2 separate regions of the Homo sapiens genome follow, and region 1 is linked to region 2. Evidence: fine-mapped expression QTL. A gene starts in region 2. The other region holds a variant in brackets. All regions are shown on one strand. Distances are between the middles of the regions.

Evidence for each region. PIP is the estimated chance that this variant, and not a neighbour inherited with it, causes the effect.
Region 1: its variant is the best candidate, but not a certain one, in a credible set for the expression of RNASEK in whole blood (TOPMed, PIP 0.89).

What each region holds. Positions count from the first base shown.
Region 1 is chr17:7,032,914-7,038,406 of GRCh38, reverse strand. It overlaps SLC16A13 (solute carrier family 16 member 13), which reads right to left and starts at 2,392. Exons shown (of 4, transcript NM_201566.3): 1 at 1,826-2,392; 2 at 1,537-1,680; 3 at 1-255. The coding sequence starts at 2,024. RefSeq lists enhancers at 1,825-2,064, 2,795-2,844, 2,453-2,953. The variant G/A (reference allele first, on the strand shown) is at 2,643.
Region 2 is chr17:7,010,544-7,015,716 of GRCh38, reverse strand. It overlaps RNASEK (ribonuclease K), which reads right to left and starts at 3,093. Exons shown (of 3, transcript NM_001004333.5): 1 at 2,956-3,093; 2 at 1,975-2,051; 3 at 1,185-1,572. The coding sequence starts at 3,033. The coding sequence ends at 1,431. ALOX12 (arachidonate 12-lipoxygenase, 12S type) reads right to left here. Exons shown (of 14, transcript NM_000697.3): 14 at 4,963-5,173. BACC1 (BPTF associated chromatin complex component 1) reads right to left here and starts at 935. Exons shown (of 6, transcript NM_174893.4): 1 at 839-935; 2 at 561-655. The coding sequence starts at 859. ALOX12-AS1 (ALOX12 antisense RNA 1) reads left to right here and starts at 3,383. Exons shown (of 3, transcript NR_040089.1): 1 at 3,383-3,521. It also overlaps RNASEK-C17orf49. RefSeq lists enhancers at 122-622, 1,093-1,222, 973-1,473, 2,653-2,832, 2,913-3,032 and 1 more and a silencer at 553-1,002.

The DNA.
Region 1 (5,493 bases), 23 kb before region 2:
CAGCAGGGTCCTCAGCCAGGGAGGGTGGGCGGAGGAGAGCACCACAGGCCACTAGGTGGAGGGAGAGGGCAGACACCAGCAGCAGGGACCCCCTCCAGGCGTAGTGGCTGAGCAGCCACTGGAAAAAGGGGGCAAATGTGAAGGAGGAGAGGCCCACGCCTGTCAGTGCCAGCCCGGTGGCCAGGGATCGTCGGCGAGAGAAATAACAGGACAGGCAGGCCAGGGTCGGAGCGAAGGTCAAAGCCCAGCCAGAGCCTGTCAAAAAGGAAGAAGTGGTGTTGAGAACTCTTAGGGAGCTCAAGGCACACAGTAATCCCCGCATTGCCCAGCAGCAGAATGTAGCACTTGCTTCGGAGTCCCACAGACCTGGGATACAATCTTGGCTTGGATACTTCATAGCTGTGTAACCTTGTGTGTTTTACTTAACACCCCCAGCCTCAACCTTCTCAACTGCAAAATGTAATAATACACTTTTTGGGATTGTGGAAGATTAGAGACAAAGTTTGTAAGGTAACTAGCACAGAACTTTGGAGTTAGACCTGGGCTCTACCATTTCTAGCTGTGTGACCTTCATTTGCCAAGTTGTATAAGCTTTAAAGCTTTTCCCCAGCTGTAAATCCAATAATGATATCGATTTCACAGTCACAGTACCTAGCACCTTTTTTTTTCTTTTTTTTTTTTGAGACGGAGTCTCGCTCTGTCGCCCAGGCTGGAGTGCAGTGGTGCAATCTCGGCTCACTGCAAGCTCTGCTTCCCGGGTTCACACCATTCTCCTGCCTCAGCCTCCCGAGTAGCTGGGACTACAGTCACCTGCCACCACGCCCAGCTAATTTTTTGTGTTTTTAGTAGAGACGTGATTTCACCGTGTTAGCCAGGATGGTCTTGATCTCCTGACCTCGTGATCCGCCCGCCTCGGCCTCCCAAAGTGCTGGGATTACAGGCGTGAGCCACCGTGCCTGGCCCCTAGCACCATTTTATAGTAATTCTTCCTTTTACACTCCAGTCCCATTAGCCCTGGGCTTCTGGGCTTGTATACTTGGTTTCATCTTTTTTTTTTTTTTTTTTGAGACAGAATCTTGCTCTGTCGCCCAGGCTGGAGTGCAGTGGTGCGATCTTGGCTCACTGCAACCTCCGCCTCCCGGGTTCAAGCGATTCTCCTGCCTCAGCCTCCCGAGTAACTGGGATTAGCGCCACCAGGCCCGGCTAATTTTTGTATTTTTGTAGAGACGGGGTTTCACCATGTTGGCCAGGCTGGTCTCAAACTCCTGACCTCGTGATCCACCCGCCTCGGCTTCCCAAAGTGCTGGGATTACAGGCGTGAGCCACCGTGCCCGGCCAGGTTTCATCATCCTTGAATTTCCTAATTCCTCACCATGTTTGTCGCTTTAGTCATTCCTATTAAGAATTCCCTTCTGGGTACAGGTGCTAGCTAAACTTTCCCTCAGCTTCTCCCCGAACCCTTTGGAAGGAGCAGGAAGGAGGTGAACATCCAACGATCTAAGCATTTGACTCTCCTGCCCTTGTGCAGGCTCTCACCTGACAGCAACCCAATACTCAGGTATAGGTGGGTCAAGGAAGTAGCAAAAGAGGCGAGCAGCATCCCCAGCGCAGCCAAGATGCCTCCAGTCATCACCACGGGCCTGGGCCCGAACTTCGTGCTCAGGGCACTGCCTACCGGGCCTGAGGAAGTGGAAGGGGCGCTGCGAGAAGATCTCAGGGGTCTCCCCCCCAGCATCTCCCGCCCCTCGCCCTTCCACTTCCCAGTCGCCGCATTCCCTCTCCCTTCCGAGGGTCGCAGTCCGCCAGATCCAGGCGCCGCACTCACTCCCAAACTGCTGCACCGCGATTCCTATGGAGGCGATCCAGGAGACGCGCGCTGCCTGCTCCTCAAACGCCGCCACAAACTCCACGAAGAAGACCCCAAAGGAGCGGAGCACCCCAAACACAAGCGCCGACTGGAAGAACGCTGAGAGCACCACCACCCATCCCCAGCCCCCGTCGGGGGGCTCTGTCCTGCGCGCCATCTAAGCGGTAACAGGGCTGCTGCCACCCAGAGCCTCTGCAGGAGCCGGGTTCTGGACGCCGCACCTCTGCACACCCACCCCCGCTGCCGGGTGGCTCGGGGCCGAGAGGGGTTGGAGAGGCAGGTAGAGAGGAAGGGCCCGACGAGGCGGCGAGAGGCCCCTGCACCTTTTCCCAAGGCGGGGCGATATAGGACTGAAGACCTGGCCCGCGCTGGCCGGGCCAGAGTCTCCCGGGGGCGTGGTTCCGCGAGCTCGGAGCTGAGCTAGTTCAAGCCGGGGCCGGATCGGTCCCGGTTCGGTGTTCGGCTGGGAGCCAGAGGGTGGAACTGAGTTTGGGCCCCACCCCTGGAGCGCGCCAGTTTCCGTGTAGATGATCTATTTTATCACTGGGGTGTCCGGGCCGGGCCACCCTGGAGCTCGCCAATGAGGACGCGGGGCTCCCGGGCAGGGGCGGAACGAGAAGGGCAGGGCGGGATTTAGGCATTGTTGGGGACCAGCAGTGAATGGGCGCATGCGTAAGGAGGGGCGTTAGGAGGCTGACTAGGTAGGGCCCCACGTGACGCGGGGACTGCCAGGAAGCTTCCGTCTCCTCTTCACCTAGCGGGCCAAGTCATCCCC[G/A]TTTCAGCACCCAGAGCCACACGGAAGGGTTAGTGGTGGGTAAACTGGGTCTGGAGAGGAGAGGACTCTCTTGCTTTAATGAGGGGTCCAGGAATTGCAAGGCCCTGTTGGGGGTAGGGGAGGGGTTAGGAGATGAGACTCAAACGAAGTGTTTGGCGCAGCGCCTGAAGCCACTAACACGCAGCCCTAGGCACGCAGACCTAGAAGCCTGGATCCCTGAGAAGTTCAACGGCTAAGGGAAGAGAGAAGGGGAATGAGTTGGACTCCTGGCGTTCATTTCTGTAGTGGGAACTCGTTCCTGTCACTTCTGTTCCCACTAACAGGAAACCTACAGGTCACAGAGACCAAAAATAACTGAGGAGAGGAAGGGCGGCTGTAAGCTCACACAGGGCCCCACCAACACCACCTACCTCTTCCTCACTGGGGCTGGAACCTTTTCCTCTGCCCTCTAGTAACAACCACTTCCTAACCACCTTTTTTGATCTGATGGTGGGGTAGACTAAAGAGACAAACTATGACCCTGGCCACTGGAGCAGTCAGCCCCCTCTTACCCAAGTAGTCCTCAGGCCCCTAGCAAACACTCCCCAGTCCTTCCCAGTCTCCATAACACCAATGGCTTGGATTTCCTGTTCCTTCATTATAAGCCATACTTCCCAGGACCCTGACCTTGAAACCGTGGACTCAATGTTCACTCCCAGATTACTGGGGAAAGCAGCAAACAAGAAGTGGAGGCAGGGAGGGAGGTGTGTAGTCTTAAAAGACATATTGAGCCTTAAATAATTTTATATGTGGGAAATAAAAGTAATCATCAATAATACACATATATACTTTCTAAGAGTCAAAATGTCGGCTGGTGGGGAATATGCCAAAGATACAGAAATTGCTGTGGCTGTATTACATAGTGATTAAGAACTCGGGTCTTTAGAATCAGATCACAGTTCCAGTCTTTTATTTATTTATTTATTTATTTATTTATTTATTTATTTATTTATTTTGAGATGGAGTCTTGCTCTGTGGCCCAGGCTGGAGTGCAGTGGCATGATCTTGGCTCACTGCAACCTCCACCTCCCGGGTTCAAGTGATTCTCCTGCCTCAGTCTCCTGAGTTTCTGGGATTACAGGCTCCCACCACAACGCCCAGTTAATTTTGGTATTTTTAGTAGAGACGAGGTCTCACCATGTTGGCCACGCTGGTCTCGAACTCCTGACCTCAAGTGATCCACCAGCCTTGGCCTCCCAAAGTTCTGGGATTACAGGCGTGAGCCACCGTGCCTGGCCCAGTTCCAATCTTGACTTTATTACTTAACTCGATCAAGATGCTGAATCTCTCAGTTGGTTTCCCCATCTGTAAACTGGGGATAATAGTACCTACTATTAAGCGTTGCCCAAGGGGTTCAGTTAGAAAATCCATGCACTAAAAATGCTTAGTTTATGTGCTGACATGCAGCAGGAGCCAAGTAATATTAGCTTAGCTGGTCTTATTGGTGTTATTTTCAACAGGGGATAAGCTGCTGTAGTGGGAAGTGAAGGAAGGTTTTAGTTTAGTGTTTTTTTTTTTGTTTTTTGTTTTTTGTTTTGAGATGGAGTTTTGCTCTTGTCTCCCAGGCTGGAGTGCAATGGCATGATCTCGGCTCACTGCGACCTCCACCTCCTGGGTTCAAGTGATTCTCCTGCCTCAGTCTCCCGAATAGGTGGGACTACAGGTGTTTGCCACTATGCCTGGCTAAATTTTTTGTATTTTTAGTAGAGACAGGGTTTCACCATTTTGGTCAGGCTGGTCTCGAACTCCTGACCTCAGGTGATCTGCCTGCCTGGGCCTCCCAAAGTGCTGGGATTATAGGCGTGAGCCACCATGCCCTGCCTAGTTTTTGTTTTTTGATTAAAAAAAAAAAAAATCTAATCCAGGTCATGGGTTTAAAAAGATTGAGAAACGACCACTGCGATGGTTTGAATGTTACCTCCAAAAACTCATATTGAAACTTAATCCCCAACTTGGCGGTACTGAGAGGTGGAAACTTTAAAAGGTGATTGGATGGGATTAATGGATTAATTAATCCCCATGAATTAGCCCACCATAATGGATTAATAGGTTAACAGATTAACCCCATCATAAAGGACTAAAAGGTTAATAGATTAATGGGTTATCATGGGAGGGGAATTGTCGGCTTTTTCAGACAGATCCAAGCTAGAACATTAGCATGCTTAGCCCCCTTTGCCATGTGACACCCTGTGCCACAGAGAGTCCATATCAGCAAGAAAACCCTCACTAGAGGGTGAGGCCCCTGGACCTTGGATTTCTCAGCCTCCATACTATAAGAAATAAATTCATTTTCTTTATAAATTACCCAGTTTCAGATAATCTGTTGTAAGCAACAGAAAATGAACTGAATGAGACAGAAAACTGGTACCAAGAAGTGGGGTGTTGCTGATAATGAATAACGGAAAATGATGAAGTGGCTTTGGAAGTGGGTGATGGGCAGAGGCTGGAAGCATTTGGAGGAGTAGGCTAGAAAAAGCCTAGATTCTGGAGAGGTCTTAGAAGACAAGAAGACTAAGAAAAGTTTGGAATTCTTTAGAGATTGGTTAAGTGTTTATGACTAGAATGTTGATAGAAATATGGAAGCAGCTGGGCGGGGTGGCTCACGCCTGTAATCCCAGCACTTTGGAAAGCTGAGGTGGGCGGATCATGAGGTCAGGAGATTGAGACCATCCTGGCCAACATGGTGAAACCTGTCTCTACTAAAAATACAAAAATTAGCTGGGCATGGTAGCACTCGCCTGTAATCCCAGCTACTCGGGAGGGTGAGGCAGGAGAATCGCTTGAACCAGGGAGTCGGAGGTTGCAGTGAGCC
Region 2 (5,173 bases):
CACAGGCTATGCATCCCACAGCCAACCAGCCGCCTCCTTCCGATTTCTGGGACCCCTTCCACGGATGCATAAAGAGGTCCTCCGTAAGGGGAGGCGGAAAGCTCTTGAGGCCCTGCGGGAACCGGGAGGACCCCAATCACAAGAAATCACAACCACCTCCACCTTAGACACCCCTTTCCACCATCAACGTTAAACGGCTGCTGTACACAGCACACTGAAACCAACTCGCCAGGAAGGGCTTTTCAAAACAGACCCACCAACACAGCCTGCAGCCGTCTGGGGGAATTCCATGAACTGGGGTGGTTGGGAGTGGCGGTGGTTTGTGGTCGACCCGTTCGCAGCAGGGAGAACTGTGAAACAGGAGTCTGGGCTATGGGCCTGTCTGTATTTTTATCTGTCATTCATTCCCTCACCCAACGATCATTTATTAACACCGACTCTGTGCTGTGCCACGCACAAAGGGAAACTAATGTCTGTCCCTGTGCTAGAGAGGGTCCGTGTCTGTGACCGAGTCCAAGCGCCCGCTCTCAGCGTCCACGTCCCAGTCCGGGCTCACGTACCCCGCAGGAGAAGAGTCGGCCACGGGATGCAGCTGCATCGTCAGCTCCCCGAGCTTCGTGAAGGCGGCGCCGGCCGCCGAGAAGATCTCTCCGACCTGGGGGCGGGGCAGCGTCACGGGGGGCCGGCGCCCGCCCTCCCCGTCCCGCCCGGAGCCCCTAGCCCCACCCCAGGCTCGGCTCCCGCCCGCCCCCCGCCCGGGGCGGAAGAGCCGCGAGCCAAGTGGGGGGCCCGCCCTCCCGTGGCCGCCAGGGAGCGCTGTCCGCGAGGGAGGTCGAACCTTTGTGGACGCTGACGTCATGGCCCCGCGCGCCTCCTCACGGAGACGCCGCCGCCGCCGCTACACGCGAGCCGGGACCACGGAGAGCAGGGAGACTGAGCGGCTCGGGCCCCCGCGCAGGAAGTCCCGCCCTCCCCGCAGCGGATAGGCTCAACCCGGCGGCTCCCCGCCCCATCAGACGCAGTCGCTTAGACCGCTCGGCGCGCCCAGTCGATGGGGAAAGCCTTCGCCTCACTTCCGCGCCACACTTCGCTCCACTTCCGCTCAGACATCGGGACTTTCCAGGCAGAGGCCGACCTCTAGTCTCAGCCCCGTGCTCGCCCCCACTCAAGCACAGACACAGGGCTGAAGAGAGCAGATTCTCTTTATTGAGATACGGGACACAGCGAAGGGTGGAGAAACGGAACAGCCCCCCAGCCTCAGCCCTCTCCACGGGGGCCGGATGCCAGAGATGGGAGAAGGGATTCAGTCTCTCGCCCGGGAAACCCAGTCCCGCAGAGGGCGCCGGCAAGGGTGGGACGCGACCTGGGTGACACGGTGCAGGGAGTCTTTAAATAGAGGAGGGGCTGGAGCGGGGAAACGCGCCGGGGCCCTAGCGCACCATGTATTCCTTGCGCTTATTGAGCCGAACTTGGCAGAAAGAGAAGCCTCCGAGGAGGAGGTAAAGGCCTGCAGCGATGAAACAGTTGTAGCTGACTTGCTCGTAAAGGTTGTATATGTTCTGGGGGCCATTCCTGGGGGTGGGAATGAAGCAAAGGGGTCAAACTTTAATAGGAGCCAACATTTTCTGAGCACTATGTGCCCGACACCTGTTTAGGCGCTGTTACGTGTATTACTTTATTCAATCTTCTTGACCATCCTATGGGGTGAGATCTGTCATAGCCATTTTGCAGAGGTGGACTGAGAAGCACAGAAAAGTAAAATACCTAAAGAGGTCACACCTAAGGTGGTGGGTTTGGGATGGCCGCTGAGGTCTGACTCCCTGGCTCCTAACCACATTCTCAAGAAAGCCGCTCTCCTCTCCAAGTCCTCTAACCTAGGGGCCCTAAGCACCGGGCCTCCCAGACGTAATTCTGACCCTAGGCCTCGCCACCTCCCACCTGCTCCCAGCCCGCCTCCCCCACCCGAATACTTACTCAAAATCTTTCTCCGTGAAGGGAACGTCCTCAATCAACACAGCGGAATGGACATTGAAAAATATTCCGAGCATTATCTGGAAAAGGGGAATGGGTAGACTGTTGAATTCAGGCACCTGACCTCATGTTCACTTCGTAAACCCCTCCCATTTCCAATGTTGCTACAACACCCGAGCCTGAGATTAACCAAAACGAGGTGGTGGTTACTGGATTCGGACTCAGCCACCTGGAACAGGGCGTGAGGTGGTGACATTGAGACAAGTGGTCGAGGCAAGGGTGGGAATAGTGACCAAGCCATCTCTCCCAGGAACCCAGATTATCGTCCTCTCTGGAGGCGTCATCATCACGGGACAGTGCGGAAGAGGGGAGGGAGAACCGGCACTTCTTCATATCATTTCTTCTTGAAGTGGCGGTGGGTGGATTACTGGGAAAACAAGGCCCAGCTACACATTTCTGGAACAAGCACTCTCTTTTCCTCCCATGTCCTCCATTCAACTCAAGCACCTCTCAGGCACCCCGCTCTTGTTTCTCCTACCTTGAGGGGTCTCCACCTTTACCAGCCCTGGCTCCTCCCACTCCAGGGCCCTCCGCTCCAGTTCCCTTTTTTCTTTTTCTTTGGGGACGGAGTCTCGCTCTGTCACCCAGGCTGGAGTGCAGTGGCGCGATCTCGGCTCACTGCACCCTCCGCCTCCCGGATTCAAGCGATTCTCCTGCCTCAGCCTCCTGAGTAGCTGGGATTACAGGCGGGCGCCACCACGCCCGGCTAATTTTTGTATTTTTATTGGAGACGGGGTTTCACCATGTTGGTCAGGCTGGTCTCGAACAGTTCCCATTTTTCAATTTCAGTCTGTCTCCTTCTCCGGGGCCTGTAGATCCCCGGCCCCTCCGGCCTGCCTGCGGCCCAGAGTTTCCTCGCCTCCCAGCCCTCCCAGCCCGGAGCCCCTCAGGCCCTCTCCGATCCTTGCCGGGGAGTCCCCTCACCAACATGATCACTCCCCAGGCGCTGAGGACGATGCCGCAGGCGGCCAGCTTCGGCCCACAGCACAGGAGCGACGCCATAAAGAAGGGAGTCGGGGATCGCCGAGGTGCAAGCGGGCTCGGAAAGCGGTGGGAGAAAGCCCAGGATGCCCTCGCAGGGGGGCAGAGGGGGCGTGGCCCCGGCCTCAACCATCCCATCCGGGGGCGGCAGGCGGAAAAGGCTGGGCTCCTCTCAGGACTTTCGCGGGAGACGGCGCCGTCTGAAACCAAAACTGCTCCTGGGGAAACCTTCCTTGACCTCTGTAGCTAGGGCGTGAGTATTGGAAGAGCGAGGGCCTCCGGTTTGTTGGTCCCCCTCCCCCCGCACACGGGAATGGAAGGAGCTGGTATGTCACGTGACCAAGCCTGTCACGTCACGTGACGAGGAACTAGCCTTAGCGAGGCCATGGGGGAAAAAGTCTAACTGGCGGAACTCCTGGGAACTGGGGCGATGGGCTCTTAGTATCGGAGGATTGGAGCCATCTGATTTTTACCTGAAATTCCTTAGTCTCTCCTGTGTTGGGGAAATGGTAAGTAAGACAGATTTTCACCAACAGAGAGCGTTTCTATCTCTTCTCTACTCCTCCCTTTTAAAATTGAGATTCTGACAGTGTAAAGGAGTTAGGACCCCCTTTTGGGGATCGGGCATGGTTTTGTGGCTTTAAAATGCTTTAAAATTGCTGAAGTTTCTTGGTATTGGAACTGTTTCTCCTAAGTAACATTTTATCATCGCACGTGAAATACTGTAACTCTCGGTGCCAAATCCAGGAAAAATGGGCGGTTAGGAGAAGTCCAGGGAAAGCCGACTGAGCAGGTTGTGAAGGTAAGCAGTCCTGTTAAATGTACACAAAAATGTCACTTTGCTTCTCTAAACTAGGAAAACTGATAGGACTTTTGAATAAGGTAGGATATAAGATTTAAAAATATAAATAGGTCATCCCCTCCAAAAAAGCCGTTTGTATGTTTAACTGGTGAGTGACAGATCTGTAATAATTATTTAGAAATAGGAATGTCGAGGCGGGCGGATCACCTGAGGTCGGGAGTTCGAGACCAGCCAGGTCAACATGGCGAAACCCTGTCTCTACTAAAAATTACAAAAATTAGCTGGATGTGGTGGCATGAGCTTGTGATCCCAGCCACTCGGGATGGTGAGGCGGGATAATCCCTTGAACCCGGGAGGCGAAGGTTGCAGTGAGCTGAGATGGCGCCACTGCATTCCCGCCTGGGCGATAGAGACTACTTCTAAAAAAAAAAAAAAAAAGAAAAGAAAAGAAGTAGGGATGTTTGAAGAACACAGTTTTGCAGTGAGCAAGTTGTACCCACTCTAGTGAGGACAGTGACCTCAGAATAATTGAGAGGGATCATTTGACCTTGAGACCCCAGGACCTAACAAATAAACACTATCATTGGCTAGAATAACTTTGTAGTTCTTGTCCATTTATTTTGTGCATGTTGTTCTTAAAAGGCTTGTGAAAGATAACTTGGAATGTGGGAAACACATAGATCCCAGAGTATTAAAGGGGCTGGAAAAGTAGCCTTAAGACATGAATTATGTGCCTTTCATCTGGGACTGTTTGGAGAAAGAAGCCATTTTGGGGCAGTGGTTTGTATTCTGCCCCAAAAACATGATTCTTATTCAGGGACTTTTGGGGTACATGGGTGAATAGGAGAAATATGGGTGGAAGGAATTTGCCAAAGAACTGAGTCAGGAATTTGTACATTGGCCACCAGGCATGAAGGTTAGTTCCTGGGAATGGAGAGTTAGCTGAGGTAAGCTGATTTTTCTAAGAAATCCCCCTGCTCCATGATCTTGGATGTTTTGGAAGTAGGGTCAGGGCCTCAGGCTAGTGCAGGGTTCAAGGGCCAAATCCAGTCTGTAGCCTGGCTGTGCATGTCTCAAACAAAGCACATTTGTTTGTGGATTTTTTTTGCATTTTAAATGGTTGAATAAACCAAAAGAAGACTACTTTGTGATGTAACATTCATATCTCAGTGTCCATAAAGTTTTATTGGAACATAGTCACACTCATTTCCATGTTGTCTGTGGCTGCCTTCATGCTGCAGCAGGAGAGCTGAGTAGTTGAGACAGTGACTATGCGGTCTGCAAAGCGTAAAAAAGGATCTAGTCTTTGCAGAGAAAGTTTACTGCTCCCCTGGGCTAGTGGGATACTAATGTAGGGGG